Homo sapiens: one gene and its partner. The protein of the gene in region 1 interacts with the protein of each later gene in a biochemical or structural test. Each region holds a gene or a part of one and is shown on either strand. Other genes may lie near its edges.

Evidence for each region.
Region 2: of the proteins of RIPK1 (region 1) and BIRC3, one has a biochemical effect on the other in vitro, tested with the Homo sapiens proteins (5 studies listed by BioGRID, with this or other methods).

Annotation. Positions count from the first base shown.
Region 1 is NC_000006.12:3,063,640-3,071,495, reverse strand, and holds the start of RIPK1 (receptor-interacting serine/threonine-protein kinase 1), read right to left. Parts: upstream 3,003-7,856; 5' UTR 2,835-3,002; exon of another isoform or gene 2,640-2,834; intron 2,440-2,639; exon of another isoform or gene 1,780-2,439; coding exon of another isoform or gene 1,717-1,779; intron 1-1,716. UniProt on the Homo sapiens protein: Serine-threonine kinase which is a key regulator of TNF-mediated apoptosis, necroptosis and inflammatory pathways.
Region 2 is NC_000011.10:102,312,567-102,320,496, reverse strand, and holds the start of BIRC3 (baculoviral IAP repeat-containing protein 3), read right to left. Parts: upstream 3,014-7,930; 5' UTR 2,926-3,013; intron 1-2,925. UniProt on the Homo sapiens protein: Multi-functional protein which regulates not only caspases and apoptosis, but also modulates inflammatory signaling and immunity, mitogenic kinase signaling and cell proliferation, as well as cell invasion and metastasis.

The DNA of each region.
Region 1 (7,856 bases):
AGTGACAAAGACATGCTGGCCTGTTATAGCAAATAATTTTAACTAATAATTACGTCCATTTGAAGGAATTTGTAAATGTTTTGCATAAATATTAATTCAGGGACTCAGGACAGTGAATTTGTTTCTATTGAAATTAATGTGAAATCTCAAGGAATTTCACGATTACCTTCTAAGGCAGGGTAAGTATACATATCAAAATATTCTAATTAACTTTTTCCCCATTTTTCTATGATGACCACACATAACAAGAGAATGGCAGAAAATGCTGGTTGCCCACCTGCCATTGCCCCCTTTCTTCCCACTAACAGAATTCTGATTTTGCTCAGCTATCCAAGTGACCAGAGGATTTCTCCAACTTCCTTGATTACAGCAGCCTGATGCTTTGCCTGGATAAACAAAAGCTCTGAGCAAGGAAGAGACTTAAGGACCAGCAAGAGACAAGAATTGAAACAGAGTTTAAACAAGCATCATAACCCCTGAAGCAAATTTTATCATGATTTCAATTTGCAAATAAAGAAACTAAGATTTGGAGCTAAGTGATTCACCTAAAGTGGTAGGATCCTGGAATGAAATATTTGTCCCTTCATTCAAACTTTCACTATTGGCTCACTAATACATGCTACTTCTCTAGATAGCAAATAATCTGTCTTCGGAAAAATCCAGATGCAAAGACCCACCCTTACAGCCTTACTCATCTATATTAAATAAATGTGCGACAGTCAGAAACACGGAGAAAGTACAGAATAAACTTTTTAAATACAGGAAGGTGAGGTGCAGGGGCTCATGCCTGTAATCCCAGCACTTTGGGAGGCCAAGGAGGGCAGATTGCCAAGAGTTTGAGACCAGATTGGCCAACGTGGTGAAGCCCTGTCTCTACTAAAAATACAAAAATTAGCCAGGCATGGTAGTGCATGCCTACAATCCCAGCTTCTTGGGAGGCTGAGGCAGGAGAACTGCTTGAACCCGGGAGGCGAAGGTTACATTAAGCCGCGATCGCGCCACTGCACTCCAGCCTGGGTGACAGAGCAAGACTCTGTCTCAAAAATAAAAATACACGGCTCATGTATTTTTGAAATATATGGTTCAAAATCAATGTTCTACAGATTAATACAGTCAACCTTTTTTGCCAGAATGTAATATCCAACTAAAGCATGGGAAATTAAGTATTTTCTTCAAATTCCCAGATCATATGGATGTTAACACGTTATAGATTAATAAGCACCAAAAAGTAAGCTGCCCAGTTTGAAAGAGGCTGTTTAAGAGCTTTTCTTAATACTCATTAATATTCACATTCCAGAAAGTACAACATATCTCTGAGGCTCAGTATAGTTCAGACAGAGGAAAATGAGTATTAAAAGTTATCATTTTTGCTATTTTATCAGTAATAATGATACACTCCAAATTTCATTTTAAACAAGCCTAGTCTTCACTTTTTGTGAATAGAAGAGCTGCAGTATTCCCCATTTCTTTATTTATTTTTTTTTTTGATACAGAGTCTCCCTCTGTCGCCCAGGATAGAGTGTAAGTGGCAATCTCGGCTCACTGCAACTACCGCCTCCTGGGTTCAAGCCATTCTCCTGCCTCAGCCTCCCGCGTAGCTGGGATTACAGGGACCCGCCACCACACCTGGCTAATTTTTGTATTTTTAGTAGAGACAGGGTTTTGCCATGTTGGCCAGGCTGGTCTCGAACTCCTGACCTCAGGTGATCCTCCCACCTCGGCCTCCGAAGTGCTCGGATTACAGGAGTGAGCCACCGTGCCCGACGCAGTATTCCACATTTCTAACAAGACAATTTCCTCTTGACTCAGTCCATCTTCCTAGCAGTCACAGAATGCAGATGAGTACTAAGACATTGCACATTTCAAAGTTCACTTCCTGCCTTGGCTTCTTCAAGTGTAAGTCAGGGAAGAATTAATCATTGGAACAGCCTCCTGCTTTGCCCAAAATAAAAAAGAGCTCTGATTAAGGGAGAGCCAAATGGTCAGCAAGAGAGAAAGAACTAACAACCCCAGACCTCCCCCTGCCCCCGCAACCCCCGCATCCCTGTGAGGCTTTGTCAAATGCTTAGGGAAGGAGGATGCAGCCTATCCTCTTCCCAACCCTCAAGAGGGTCCGCAGCACTTCACAAAAGCACCTGCCAGTGACAGAAGCCTGCTAGGGTTACCACATTCGTCCCCTCAGTCGTCTAAGATCACGCAGAAATGCTTTTGTTTTTGGAACCTGCTGCGGCCTCAAGCGCAACAGTAAAAGGCCCTTTCAAAGGGCTGGTAAGGGAAGAGCCCAAACTGTTTTTTCTTAATGATAGGGCACTAGGAGCCCACCTTCTCCACCAAAACAACATTAATGGCGTGTGGGACTGCCTATTCCACCCTCACGCGGTAACCGCGGCCCAAAGGCAGGTCTCCGCCCGCTACCAGTCCAGCGCCCCGACCTCTGGCACAGAGGCGGCCAGCGGACTCCGGATAAGCAGAGACACCTAGCGGAGCACCCCTGACTTCCGGGAGCGCCCGCGGCCCCGCCCACCGCCCGACTTCCGGTACCGGCGGGGCCCGCCCGCCGCGCGCACCCCGGGCAGAGTCCCTCTCCTTCCGGGAAGCCCGCGGCCGCCCCGGCCTCCACGCAAGCACCCGAGCGTTACTTTCGTTTCCGCGGCAAACGTCTGGAGGCCCGGGTGAGGGAAGAAGCGGCGGCGGAGGGTTGGGGATTACTCCGACGCCGCGGCAGCCTTGCCCGGGCGTGCTGGGGGAGGGCGCGCGAACCCCGACCAGGGGGGTCACCGGGACTGAGCCCGGCGGCCTCCGGAATGTTCCCCGCGCGGTGCCAGTCCGCTCACCGCGCCCTTCTCCGTGGCCGCGCCGTCCAGCCAAGTCCTGCCGCGCTCCGTCGGCCCCGCCCGGATGGCCGCGCTCTGGCGCCCCAGCTGTGGGTCCCCTGGAGTCGCCGCGCTCCGGCAGCTGGCCCGCCGTCCGCGTCGAGCGCGCCCGGCTGGAGGGCGTGGACTGTTCGCGCTGCCTCCTCCCCCTGCCCCGGCCCTTGCCGGGGAGGAGGACCGCGAGAGCGCCGCCCCGCCGCTCGTGGGACCTCGCGCCCGGGGTCTGAGTCCCGGAGCTCTCTTGCGGGCTAGAGGATCGCGGACTTTGTTTTCAAGCGAGTGGGGCGGCCTACGTAAAAGAGGAAACCGAAACCTCCGCGCGCACGAGAGGGAGAAGGGTCTGGAGGGAAGCACTGGGTGGATTACAGCGGGGGCGCTATCCGGAGGATTCAGAGCTCTGCGGGTTAGCATAGGCAAGTTAGCATTCCTCTACCTTCATCTGTAAAGTGGGGCTGTTGAGGAGGAAATGTGATTATTTTGCAGCCCTTTAAAATGGTAATTGTGAAGTCTCGAGCAAAGTTGGAACTGCATGCTATTCATGTATATTAAAAATCAAATAATAAAATTATATGCACATCAGGCCGGGCGCGGTTGTTCACGCCTGTAATCCCAGCACTTTGGGAAGCCAAGGCGGGCGGATCACTTGAGGTCAGCAGTTCGAGACCAGCCTGGCCAACATGGTGAAACCCCATCTCTACTAAAAAATACAAAAATCAACTGGGCGTGGTGGCGGGCACCAGCAATCCCAGCTACTCGGGAGGCTGAGGCAGGAGAATCCCTTGAACCTGGGAGGTGGAGATTGTAGTGAGCCGAGATCGCGCCACTGCACTCCAGCCTGGGTGACAAGAGCAAGATTCCGTCTCAAAAGGAAAAAAAAAAAAAGCACAACAGGATTACATACTGTGAAAAGATATGTATGTCAAGAGAACTAGCCACGTTCACAACACGAGCCACAGACTGGGAGAAAATATTTGCAAAAGACATATCTGATAAAGCACTGTGACCCAAAATATACCAAAAAAAACCCTCTTAAAATGCAACAATATGAAAATGTACAACTTGATTAAAGGCGGGCAAAAGCTCTGAACATACACCTCACCATATGTATATGCATATGAAAAGATGCTCAACATCATGTCATTAAAGAATTGCAATTTAAAAAAACAAATACTATTACACATTTATTAGAATGGCTAAAATTCAGAACACTGACAACAACAAATGTTGATGAGGATCTGGAGCACAAGGAACTCCCATACATTCCTAGTGGGAATGCCTAATGTTAGAGTCTGGAAGACATTTTGGCAATTTCTTAACCAAGCTCTTCTTACCATAAGATGAAGCAACTCCACACCTTGGTATTTACCCAAACGAGTTGAAAGCTTATGCCCATACAAACACCTGTACAAGAATGTCTATAGCAGCTTTATTCATAATTGCCAAAACTTGAGGGCATCCAAGATATCACTTAATGGGTGGACAGATAAGCTGTGGTACATCTATACAATGGAATATTAAGTGCTAAAAAGAAATGAGCTCTGAAGCCACAAAAAAAAAAAAAAAAAAAAAAATCCTGGAGCAATCCTAAATGTATAAATCTAAGTGAAAGAAGCCAATCTGAGAAGACTACATAATGCATGATTCCAACTATGTGACATTCTGGAAAAGGAAAAACTACGGAGATAGTAAAAAAGATCAGCGGCTGCCAGGGATTTGCAGGGAAGGAGGGATGGATAGGTGAGGCACAAGGGATTTTTAGGGCAGTGGAGTCTGACGTTACAGGGTTGGGTACATCTCTATACATTTGTCAAATGTATCTTGAATATACACAAAGAGCAAAACCTAACAAACTCCGGACTTTGGCTGATAATGTATATGTTTTATCCATATTGGTTCATTTTTGTAACCATGAATCTATGTTGGTTTATCAGGTGTGACAAATATTCCACAGTAATGCAGGATGTTGATGGTAGGGGAGGCTGTACAGTCCAGGATGTTTGTGGAAGGGGATATTTTCTTTCTGCTTAGTTTTGCTGTAAACCAAAACAGCTCTAAAACAAAGTCTATTCATTATTTTTTAAAAGATGTACACATATCAAAAAAGACGAAAGGCAGAGCTATTCACTCAGCAAAGCTTTCTATCTACTGTATGCCAAGCAGGTACTAGATACAAGAGCATCTGGTGATAGATACAAGAAATACAAAAAGGAATTCATTCCTTCAGTAAATATTTACTGAGCACCTGTTCTAGGCACTGAAGACTCGGTTGTGAATTAAACACAAAAAATCTCTATGTTCTGGCCGTGTGTAGTGGCTCACACCTGTAATCCTAGCACTTTGGGAGGCCAAGTCGGGCGGATTGCCTGAGCTCAGGGGTTCCGGACCAGCCTGGCAAACATGATGAAACCTCGTCTCTACTAAAAATACAAAAATTAGCTGGGCGTGGTGGTGCATGCCTGTAGACCCAGCTACTCAGGAGGCTGAGGCGGGAGAATTGCTTGAACCCAGAAGGCGGAGGTTGCAGTGAGCCAAGATTGCTCCAGCCTGGGTGACAGAGCCAGACTCCGTCTCAAAAAACAATAAAAAATAAAAAACTCCACGTTCCATTCGTGGAGCTTGCATTCTAATGGGGAAGACAAAAAGTTATTGCCCATCACTGTCCTCTAGACATCATGTGACCTTGGGAGGTTGGAAATGCGTTGTTTTTGCTTCATTTTGTGTTCAGTGTTTTAACTCAGAAACATCTATTTGGGAGCTTTACTCATTACTCCCAGCAAAAGCCATGAGTGTAGACTGTGCATGAGATGAAGGAACTGGTCCTTGCAGAACACCAGAATGGAAAAGGCAAGAAACAGCCCAAGGTGAGGAAAGAAAACCAGCGAGAACAAAGAGCTGGTACTATCTCTGAAGCCCGTGGAGGCCAAAGTGTGAATATGAGGGGGTAGGTCTCTTGGCCACAGGCCTGAAACCAAATGAACCCCCACCCCCAGGCTGCAGTTCCCAGTGCACTTGGAAATGAGACCCTGACTCCTCCAGGTGAGCCTGGGAGACCTCCCTGACTCCTTTCCATCTCCCCCTCCTCCCCCACACCCATCTCCAAGGCCTGCCCTCTACGCCCACATTTCTTCCCACTTTGGATCCTGTGCCTGGTCTAATGCCCAGGCCCCCTCCCGAGCCTCTGGTCTCCCTAGAGCCACTCCCCACTGTCGGGACACCTCATCTGTGCTCCCCAAAACGCCACGCAAAGCACTGGAGAGCCTTGGACAATGAACACAACCCGCACCCCCAGCCACCCCCGCCACAGCCGCACGGCACCTCAGAAAGCCGTGTCTTTTTTTTTTTTTTTTTTTTTTTTTTTGAGACGGAGTCTGGCTCTGTCGCCCAGGCTGGAGTGCTGGAGTGCAGTGGCGCGATCTCAGCTCACTGCAAGCTCCGCCTCCCGGGTTCACGCCATTCTCCTGCCTCAGCCTCCCGAGTAGCTGGGACTACAGGCGCCCGCCACCACGCCCGGCTATTTTTTTGTATTCTTTTTTTTCTTTTTTTTAGTAGAGACGGGGTTTCACAGTGTTAGCCAGGATGGTCTCCATCTCCTGACCTCGTGATCCGCCCGCCTCGGCCTCCCAGAGTGCTGGGATTACAGGCGTGAGCCACCGCACCCGACCAGAAAGCGGTGTCTTAATCCTCTTGTCCTTCCTCCTAAATCTCCTGGGGCCCTTAGGATCCGCTTAAAGCCACCTCGTTAAAACGGTTTCTTCTCCACCTGCCCCTCCCTTGATCCAGCCTCACTGAGGTCACAGCCTCCACCTCTGGCCATCCTGAACCCCTCCCAAAGTCACCTCTTCGCAAACTCCTGGTCCCCCTTAGAAGGCCCCACGTCCATCACGGGATTAATTCCACTCACCCTCAAACACCGCGGCCCGGAGGCTCTGATTCCCACCCTAGAGGAGGTTCTCTTGACCCCGCCGGCGCGACCCTCCCCAGCACGACCCTTCCTCCCGAAAGTGATTCCTCATCTTGCTGGCGGGTCCCACAGACCGCAGGCTCTGCAGGCGAGCGCTGAGCCTGGCTCTGCAGATTCTCAGTCCCTGGAGGAGTGCTCCGGGGAAGGAAGGGCCCCATCCGTTTCGCTGAGTTACTGAAAGAATTAGAATGGGTAAGAGTGCTCGGATTTAGAACTGGAGACTAGTGACTTTGAAAGACAGAAGAAGAACCAGGACAGACGTCATCCTGCGGATCCCAGAGCAGAGAGGAGCAGTGAGAACACAGGGCCGGCAGGTGGGGAGGAGGCTGCAGGGGAGGGCTTCGGCCAGGGAAGGGCAGCGAGGAGGCGCCGGGGAGGGCGGCGTCCGCGCTGGCTGGGAGCTGCGGAGGCGGAAACCGGCTGCGCGCTGCAGGGGACCCCCCACAGACCGTTGCTGACCCCGCCGAGACACCACCGCCTCCCCGGGGCTCTTGGCTGAGCGACCTCTCCTGTCTTCAGGTCCCATCTTTCGGTGGCAGCCGGTGGACCTGAAGCTCGCCACTCCCGTGCTCCACCCCGGCCGTGCGCGGGGACGTCCTCACCTGCCACCTAGTCTCCGTGTCGCGCTCCGAGCCTGGACGCCGACTCCCGAGGCGCAGGACCGGGCCCTGCTGCTGCGCTCGCCGCGGACTCCCACTCGGCCCCGGCGGGCACCGCCTTTTATATAGTAGCTTGTGACGCCACGGAGCTTTTCCCACACTTGACGAGCAGTCTAACTGGGGCTCCGCCTGCCGGGACTAGCCGGGGAGGCGCGCGCGTTCGCGCGGCGGCGGAGGGCAGGGCTAGGCGCAGAGGCAGATCCGTCTACCCCCAGTCCGCCCCGCCCAGGGCGATGTCCGCCAATGCTCCCGCCAGCCTGAGGCCGGCCAGGTTCCCAAGGCGCGCGCTCGGCCTCACCCACCCCCGGCGCCAGGGCCTCTTCAGGACCGGGTTCAGAACCTGACAGCCCAGAGAAGTAGGTT
Region 2 (7,930 bases), on another chromosome or scaffold:
GCCCAGGTGTTTGAGACCAGCCTCAAACTGGGTGACTTGGCAAAACACCATCTCTACAAAGAAACTCAAAAATTAGCCAGACATGGTGGCACCTGCCTGTGGTCCCAGCTACTTGAGAGGCTGAGGCAGGAGGTTCACTTGAGCCCATGAGGCAGAGCTTGCAGTGTGAGACTGCATAACTGCACTCCAAACTGGGTGACAGAGCAAGACCCTGTCTCAAAAAAAGAGAGAGAGAGAGAAAGAGAGACACTGAGAGTTTTTCTCATTTATATCACCTCCATTTGAGTTTGCAAACCCCTTACACAAATCTTATCCTAAAGAAGCTTTAGGTCAGGCGTGGTGGCTCACGCCTGTAATCCCAGCACTTTGGGAGGCCAAGGAAAGCAGATAACTTGAGATCAGGAGTTCGAGACCAGGCTGGCCAACATGGTGAAACCCTGTCTCTACTAAAAATCCAAAAAAAAAAACCATCGGGCGTGGTGGCACGCACCTGTATTTCCAGCTACTCAGGAGACTGAAGCAGGAGAATCACTTGAACCCGGGAGGTGAAGGTTGCAGTAAGCCAAGATCACACCACTGCACTCCAGCAAGGCATATATTTGTGGAAATTTAGGCAACAACTATACAATAAATATACACAAATATGCCAAGATGTCAACCCTAGATCACTTCAACCTCTGTCCTAATCATTTCCAACACCTAGATGCAACCCTGCAGACTGGGACCAGCATCACTTAAGACTCCTCTGCCATCCCTTAGCAATAGGCTCAGCTCCCTAGCCCATGCCCTATGCACCTCTTCTAAACCTTCAACACCTTCCTCAAATTTCTCCACTGCACTCCATCTCATTTTCAGTCAATTACTTTGCCTTCTGTTTCTCAAAGAAAAGAGACATCATTGAGCAGGAACCTTCTCACGTTCTCATATCCAAGCCGTTTTGGCTCACAACCTACTTGCTGTCTCAGTTAAAGACTTGCCCCCTTATGGGATCCTACACTGTCCTACTGCCTCAGAAATCTTGTTCTTAATCCCATCCCCTCATTGCTTCAACTCTCATTCCTGTCACTCTCGACTGGCCTTTTTCCTTTCACATAACCATGCTTAAATCTATCTCAACTTTCAAATGAAAGAAATTTTTAAAATTCTCTTTCGGCCGGGTGTGGTGGCTCATGCCTGTAATCCCAGCACTTCAGGAGGCTGAGGCGAGTGGATCACGAGGTCAGGAGACTGAGACCATCCTGGCTAACACGGTGAAACCCCGTCTCTACTAAAAAAAATACAAAAAATTAGCCGGGTGTGGTGGCATGCACCTGTAGTCCCAGCTGCTCAGGAGGCTGAGGCAGGAGAATCGCTTGAACCCGGGAGGTGGAGGTTGCAGTAAGCCGAGACTGCACCACTGCACTCCAGCCTGGGTGACAGAGTGAGACTCTGTCTCAAAAAAAAAAAAAAAAAATCCTCTTTCAACCACACTTTCCACTCTAGCAACTACCCTGTATCACCCCTTCTCTTCACAGCCAAGCAAACTGGACATGTGTGTATGGTTAATGTCTCCATTTTCCCTCTCCCATTTACTCATTAAGTCAGCATCACTTAAAACTGCTTTCGGTGTTAATAACACCAATGGCTTTTTTGCTAAAACCAATGGAAATGTTTGCATCTGACACTGGGACACACTTCCTCTTAGAAATGTCCCATTCCCTGGGCTTCTCTGATACCAAGCTCTTGGGATTCTTCTTTCATTTCTAGTGGTTCCTTCTCAGATTGGCTCAGTCCCCAGCCTCTCCTCTTCTGACTCATTCATTTAACCTACCAAGAAGGCAACCTCCCCAGTCCCAGGGCTGTTGGGCATCCCTACCCTTTGGGCATGCAGCACATCCATTTTTCTGACACTGGAGGGCAAGTGTGCCTTTTCTTTCTGCCTCCCGCTAGACAGTAAGCTCTTTTAGAATGGCAACTATTAATATGTTTCATCTCTGTACCTGCCCTCCCACTCATAGCATCTGCAGAGCTTGGTATATGGGGTAGACACGAAGACTTCCCGTTGAAGAAGTAAATGACTGAGACCTGAGTGACCACAGTACTTCTATCAATTTTATATTAATGACCACAGAGTCAGCTCAGTGATTGATTAGTATCAGGCTTTGGAGTCAGACATCGGGGGTGCCCAATACCAAGCAGTCCGGTAACCAGAAGCATGACCTTGCACAAGTAAATCTCCAAGAGCCTCAGTTTCCTCATTGTCAAATGGAGATAATTATGGTACCTGCTTCTTAAGATTATGATAATTAAACGTGAAAAATACATGTAAAGTCTTCAGAGACAAACCTAGCACATAGCAGGTAGCAGTACTTAATGTTAGCAATAAATAATAGCAAATAAAGTCAATATTTAATATTATTGTTACGTTAGCATCAGGTACATGCCTTCGACAATGTATTGATCAGAGTAAGAGCACTACTAGGTTTCCATGCTGATCACCAGGAAGACAACCAAAAACTGCTGTCTTCCTACCACCGCTTGGAAACATGCGTCCATTTGCTCATTAAACGTTTTACTTCCTTCCTGTGCCAGAGCTCTGCCTTAGGCTCTGTCCTGAAATTTATTTGGCACCTGCAAAGGCCCAGTGATAACTCTTGGCAACCGAATCAAAATGCCACAACTTCACAATTCCACTGGCTCACTCCAAACGTGAAATAGAAATTGAGCACCTGGAACCTATCTAGAGCCTGCTTTTGGGCCCTGGTGTTTGATAACTGCGCCCCACCCACTGACTCTCAACCTCTGCAGCGCCCCGGGCTCTAGCCCTAAGCGCCCCTCGGCCAGCCGCTGGCACATCTCTTACACCAGGGGAGGCGCGCGCGCGCGCACACATACACACACACACACGCACACACACACACACACACACCAGCCTTCCTTGCCCACCTGCTGCCCAGAGGCCGACGACGCATGCACCAGCAAGGACAAGCCCAGTCTTTTCAAGCGACACCTGTCGCCTGGCCTTTTCCGTGCCGGAGGGCGCGAGTCTCACGCTGTCTTTTAAATGCGTCACCCAAATCCCCACCCCTATCTGTACCAGGCGTTCCGCACTCCTCCCAGTGGTTTGCATGTGCACTGGTGCTTTCCTTTTAGGACTTAGGGGAACTCCAGCGGTAATAACCACACACACTTCCTCTTAATCAGTGGCCTGGCAAACCCACTCGGGGATTTCCATGACCCAAAAGCATGACTCTTAACCGTGGCATATCTTCGCGGCATTTACTGAAAGACATTTGCTTCATTGCTCGTGGGTCAGAGGAAATCTTGATAACAACCCATATAGAGAGGACGATCATTGCTTAGCCTGCCTGGAAAAGGTCAATATGCCCTGTTCTCCACCCTCCATCCGCCATACACTTTACACGTAAAAAGGTTAGGTTTTTCAATCTTCTACTATAGCTGCAGAAGTCCAGCATTTAAAAAAAAAAAAATCGAAACTTTGTGAAATATTTCTATTTATTTTTACTTTTTGTTCTGATCAAGAAAGTAAGAGGTGAAAGGAAATGTAGGGGTATGTGAAAAAAATCATGCAGTTCTCCTTTGCAGTTTATTTTACCATTTTAAAGATTGAAATGGCTTGGTAAATTTTCTGTATGGAAATACTTTTGTTTGGTTTGGTGAGTTGTTTTTTTTTTTTTTTTAATAAGTAGGGTGGAGTTGGCTACTTAAAAAAATCCCTCCTTTATAGCCTTTGATCTCACAGGGCAGGTTTCTGAGTTGCAGTGCCATTCTCAGGGAAACCTGACATCTTTGAGTCTAATTGCACTGCCATATTTCCCTCAACGTTCTCTAAGCAGTAAATTTAAGCAACTTTATCTGAGAGCCATCCGTACCAGGGTAACAGATGGATTTGGAGAGCTCATCTGATTTTCTATCTTCCAGTAGATCAAAGACAATTACCAACCAGAGACAGAGCCCATAAAGATTATTGGAGACTTCATCGTTCTGTGGAAACAGCATCCAGTGCATTCTGCACGCAATTGGACTGAGCTGAGGCATCCTCTTGTTTAGGTGGACTTGGCTGTCCATAGCAGCTGAAGTTCCAGTTGGAATTATTTCAGAAAGACTAAGTGTATTTATCATATGGAGATTTTAATCCACATTTGAGTCTGCTTCAATCAAGACTTTCTAAGCCATTTTCAACTCACTCCTGAGATTATTGAAAATAATTTGCAGGCCTTACACATTTTTGATTATGTACTCACCAGAAGAATTTTGAAAAGCTCTGCATTCCCTTGCCCATTTTTAACTTAACATTAAAACATAAAGCTCTTGTACATGTCAAGAATCTACAAAATGTAAACATAGATATTTTCAGAAAAAATTGATAGAGCACTCTTTTAAATGTATTTGATGGATCCTAATACCATAGTAATTTGACATACATGATCATCCATGAAGCAATTATCAGGTCATCTTTAATAACTGAAAATATTTTATCATTGCCTTTTGTCATTGAACATTCCAATTCCCCTACAGAATGTTAATACATGTTTGTACTGAACATCTTTTATCATCTCTCTGTCACATATCTCTGAAACAAATACATATTAGAACTTGAAATCTATTTTTTTCTCTGGGATCATAAGGATCTAAGTGTTAAAAAAAAAAAAAATTCCTCTTTGACCAGGCATGGTGGCTCACGCCTATAATACCAGCACTTTGGGAGGCGAAGGTGGGTGGATCATCTGAGGTCAGGAGTTCAAGACCAGTCTGGCCAACATGGTGAAACCGGTCTCTCCCAAAAATACAAAAATGAGCCAAGTGTGGTGGTGCACGCCTGTAGTCCCAGCTACTTGGGAGGCTGAGGCACAAGAATCACTTGAACCTGGGAGGCAGAGGTTGCAATGAGTCAAGACAGTGCCACTGCACTCCAGCCCTGGAACAGAGTGAGACTGCATCTCAAAAAAAAAAAAAAAAAATCCTCTTTGATTACATTATCATTGATATTGTTTTCATTACTTTTAAAGCATAATTGGTCAATACAATATAAAAATATCGTAAATGTTAATAACTGCATTACAAATACAATTTAAGGGGGTGGCAGCTTGTATTTTAAGCAAGTTTTTCAAGTGTGCAGTCATGAATATTACCTATAGCTATAATATGTTAGGGTTCAGCACAGATTCTGTTCCTTTTTTCATTTCTACAGACATAAATGTTGTAAACCTTATTTCACAGAAGTAAGTAGATAAGTAGATAGGCCCAGAAGAAACATTATTATGGCAATTTTTTCACAATTTAAAAAATATGTTTTATATTCCAAAAATCATTTAGTGATCTCTAATCAAAATATGTAATTACTTATCAGTAGACAACTCAATTTTGTTGAAATTGGTGGTTTAGAAACCACTGAACTTTTGGTATCCAGATACAGTTGACAGAGTTAGCAAATTAAAACAGAGAACACCTAGTTAAATTTTGGTTTAATATAAACAATGAATGCATTTCCAGTATAAGAATGTATTGTGCAATATTTGGCACCTAGCTATACTAATAAGTTATTCATTAGTTATCTGAAATTTAGATTCAGTTTGGTGTTCTGTATTTTACCTGGCAACCCTATATCCAGATATTAGAGTCATTCATTTTCTCAACACTAATACAGATCGATTATTTCAAATCATCCAGGAGGTTTCTACACCCAGAGAAATATACGATTTTAAAACTCATGATAGGTGAGAGGTGAGCCTGTCTTTTAAGGGAAGACAGAGAACCATTGTGAAAAGGGAGATGAGAAGACAGAACAACCCTGGCAACCTTCACAGTTCTTGTTTTCAAGCAGATCAGTTTTGGGAGAAGCTACATATGGAAGTTGAGAGTGAGACTATTAATTCCTTAAAACTATTTGAGCTCCCACCTCCCTGTTGGTAAGTCTTTGTAAACACCCAGGGGCACACTTACCCCAGTTTAAAAACTATGGCTGGCCAGGCACATTGGCTCACACCTGTAATCCCAGCACTTTGGGAGGCTGAGGTGTGTGGATCACCGGAGGTCAGGAGTTCGAGACCAGCCTGGTCAACATGGCAAAACCCCATTTCTACTAAAAATACAAAGATAAGCGGGTCATGGTGGCAGGTGCCTGTAATCCCAGCTACTTGGGAGGCTGAGGCAGGAGAATTGCTTGAACCCGGGGAGGCAGAGGTTACAGTGAGCTGAGATCTCGCTACTGCACTCCAGCCTGGGAGAGAGAGCAAGAATCCATTGCCAAAAAAGTAAATAAATAAAAATAAATAAAGACCATGGCTTAAGAAATCCCTGAATTGACTGAGTCTCGCGTTTTTCAAACTGGTCATGAGAGCTAGGGTCAGGCCTAGTAGGTTGGAAGCAAATTAACATGTCTGCTTTGCAACATTTTGCACAATTAAAAAAAAAATGGTTTCCCTAGATAAATGTGTATGGGCAAGCACTGTATATATTTGTTCACTGCATTATTCTAGTACTAGTAGAGTGTCTGCTCAAAGGTGCTCAGTAAACCTTTGTTTACTGACTAACAAAAATAGAGCCAATCTATCCAAACTATCCACTTGGGCTTTCTCTATTCTAAACCTGCATCCACATCTTTAATGGTGTAACCTACCTTGCATTTTCTTTCTAACTCTTTGTATATCTCACATACTTTATTAAAAAAACTCCTCTTTTCCTTTCAACATCCAGCTGTTATCCTTGTGCAGGGGGCATGCTAATCTTCTTGGTAGGGTTCCAATTTTAGTATATGTGCTGCCAAAGCAAGCACAGCCTAAATATATTTTCTCTCCAAATACTCTTATTTTCTTCCAAGCCAGTGAATTCCAAGCTCCAAATACTCTTTTCACGACAGAAATACACAAGGAAACCTTTGAGGAAAGTGAAAGCTAGACACAAACTGTATAGCCATTACTATCTTCAGTTTTCTAGGTTTGTTTGTGGTTTTTTTGTTGTTGTTTTCTCATTTTTATTTTTTTGAGACAGAGCCTTGTTCTCAGGCTGAAATGTCACCCAGGCTGAAATGCGGTGGCACAATCTCAGCTCACTATAACCTCAACCTACTGGGCTCAATCAATCCTCCCATCTCAGCCTCCTGAGTAGTTCTGACTACAGTCACGGGCTACCATGCTTGGCTAATTTTTGTATTTTTTATAGAGACAGAGCCTTGCGATGTTGCCCTGGCTGGCCTCTTGGGCTCAAGTCATCTATCTGCCTTGACCTCCCAAAGTGCTGGGATTATAGACATGAGCCACCACACTTGGCCTCTTGGTTTTCCAGTTTTTTTCTACTGTCAGTGTATGAGCAAGGTATGAATGACAGAGTTTTTCATCCCATTCCTGGCTCAGAACTCTGACAATTCCTGAGAGCGGTATGCTCTCAATATCCTATTATCAAATAATCAATTTAAAAGTATTTTTCCCTTGGGGGAATTATTATTAAAAATATTTTTTCTCTGGAGGGAATTTCGCATAATGTTGTAACAACTTTAGTTGTAGCCTAATGCTTTTTCACTGTAAGTTTTTAGATTTTTATGTATAAAGAAACCCAGGAATCTAGAACTGAAAGTGAAAGTGAAATCTTACAGGGAACATACTGTTCTAATTCCAAAGCAAATCTGAGAGTCCTTGTAAATGTTGACAATTTCCTGGTCTGTTGATAACTTTCTAACATCTTGCAAATAAAATACAATTACACCAGCCTTGAATAAGTGCTAACGAAGATCAAATTTACAAAGAAACCTCCTCTAATGTAAAGCTTTAGTCAAGATAATGAAGTTTACCCCTCATAAATGGTGGCTTACTTTATTTTATACTGATAGTACTCTAATAAAATATAATTTATATCATGTAAAGTACACAGATATTAAAAGCGTATAGCTTTATGATTTTGACAAATGAATGTACTCAGTTAACTATCAACCAGA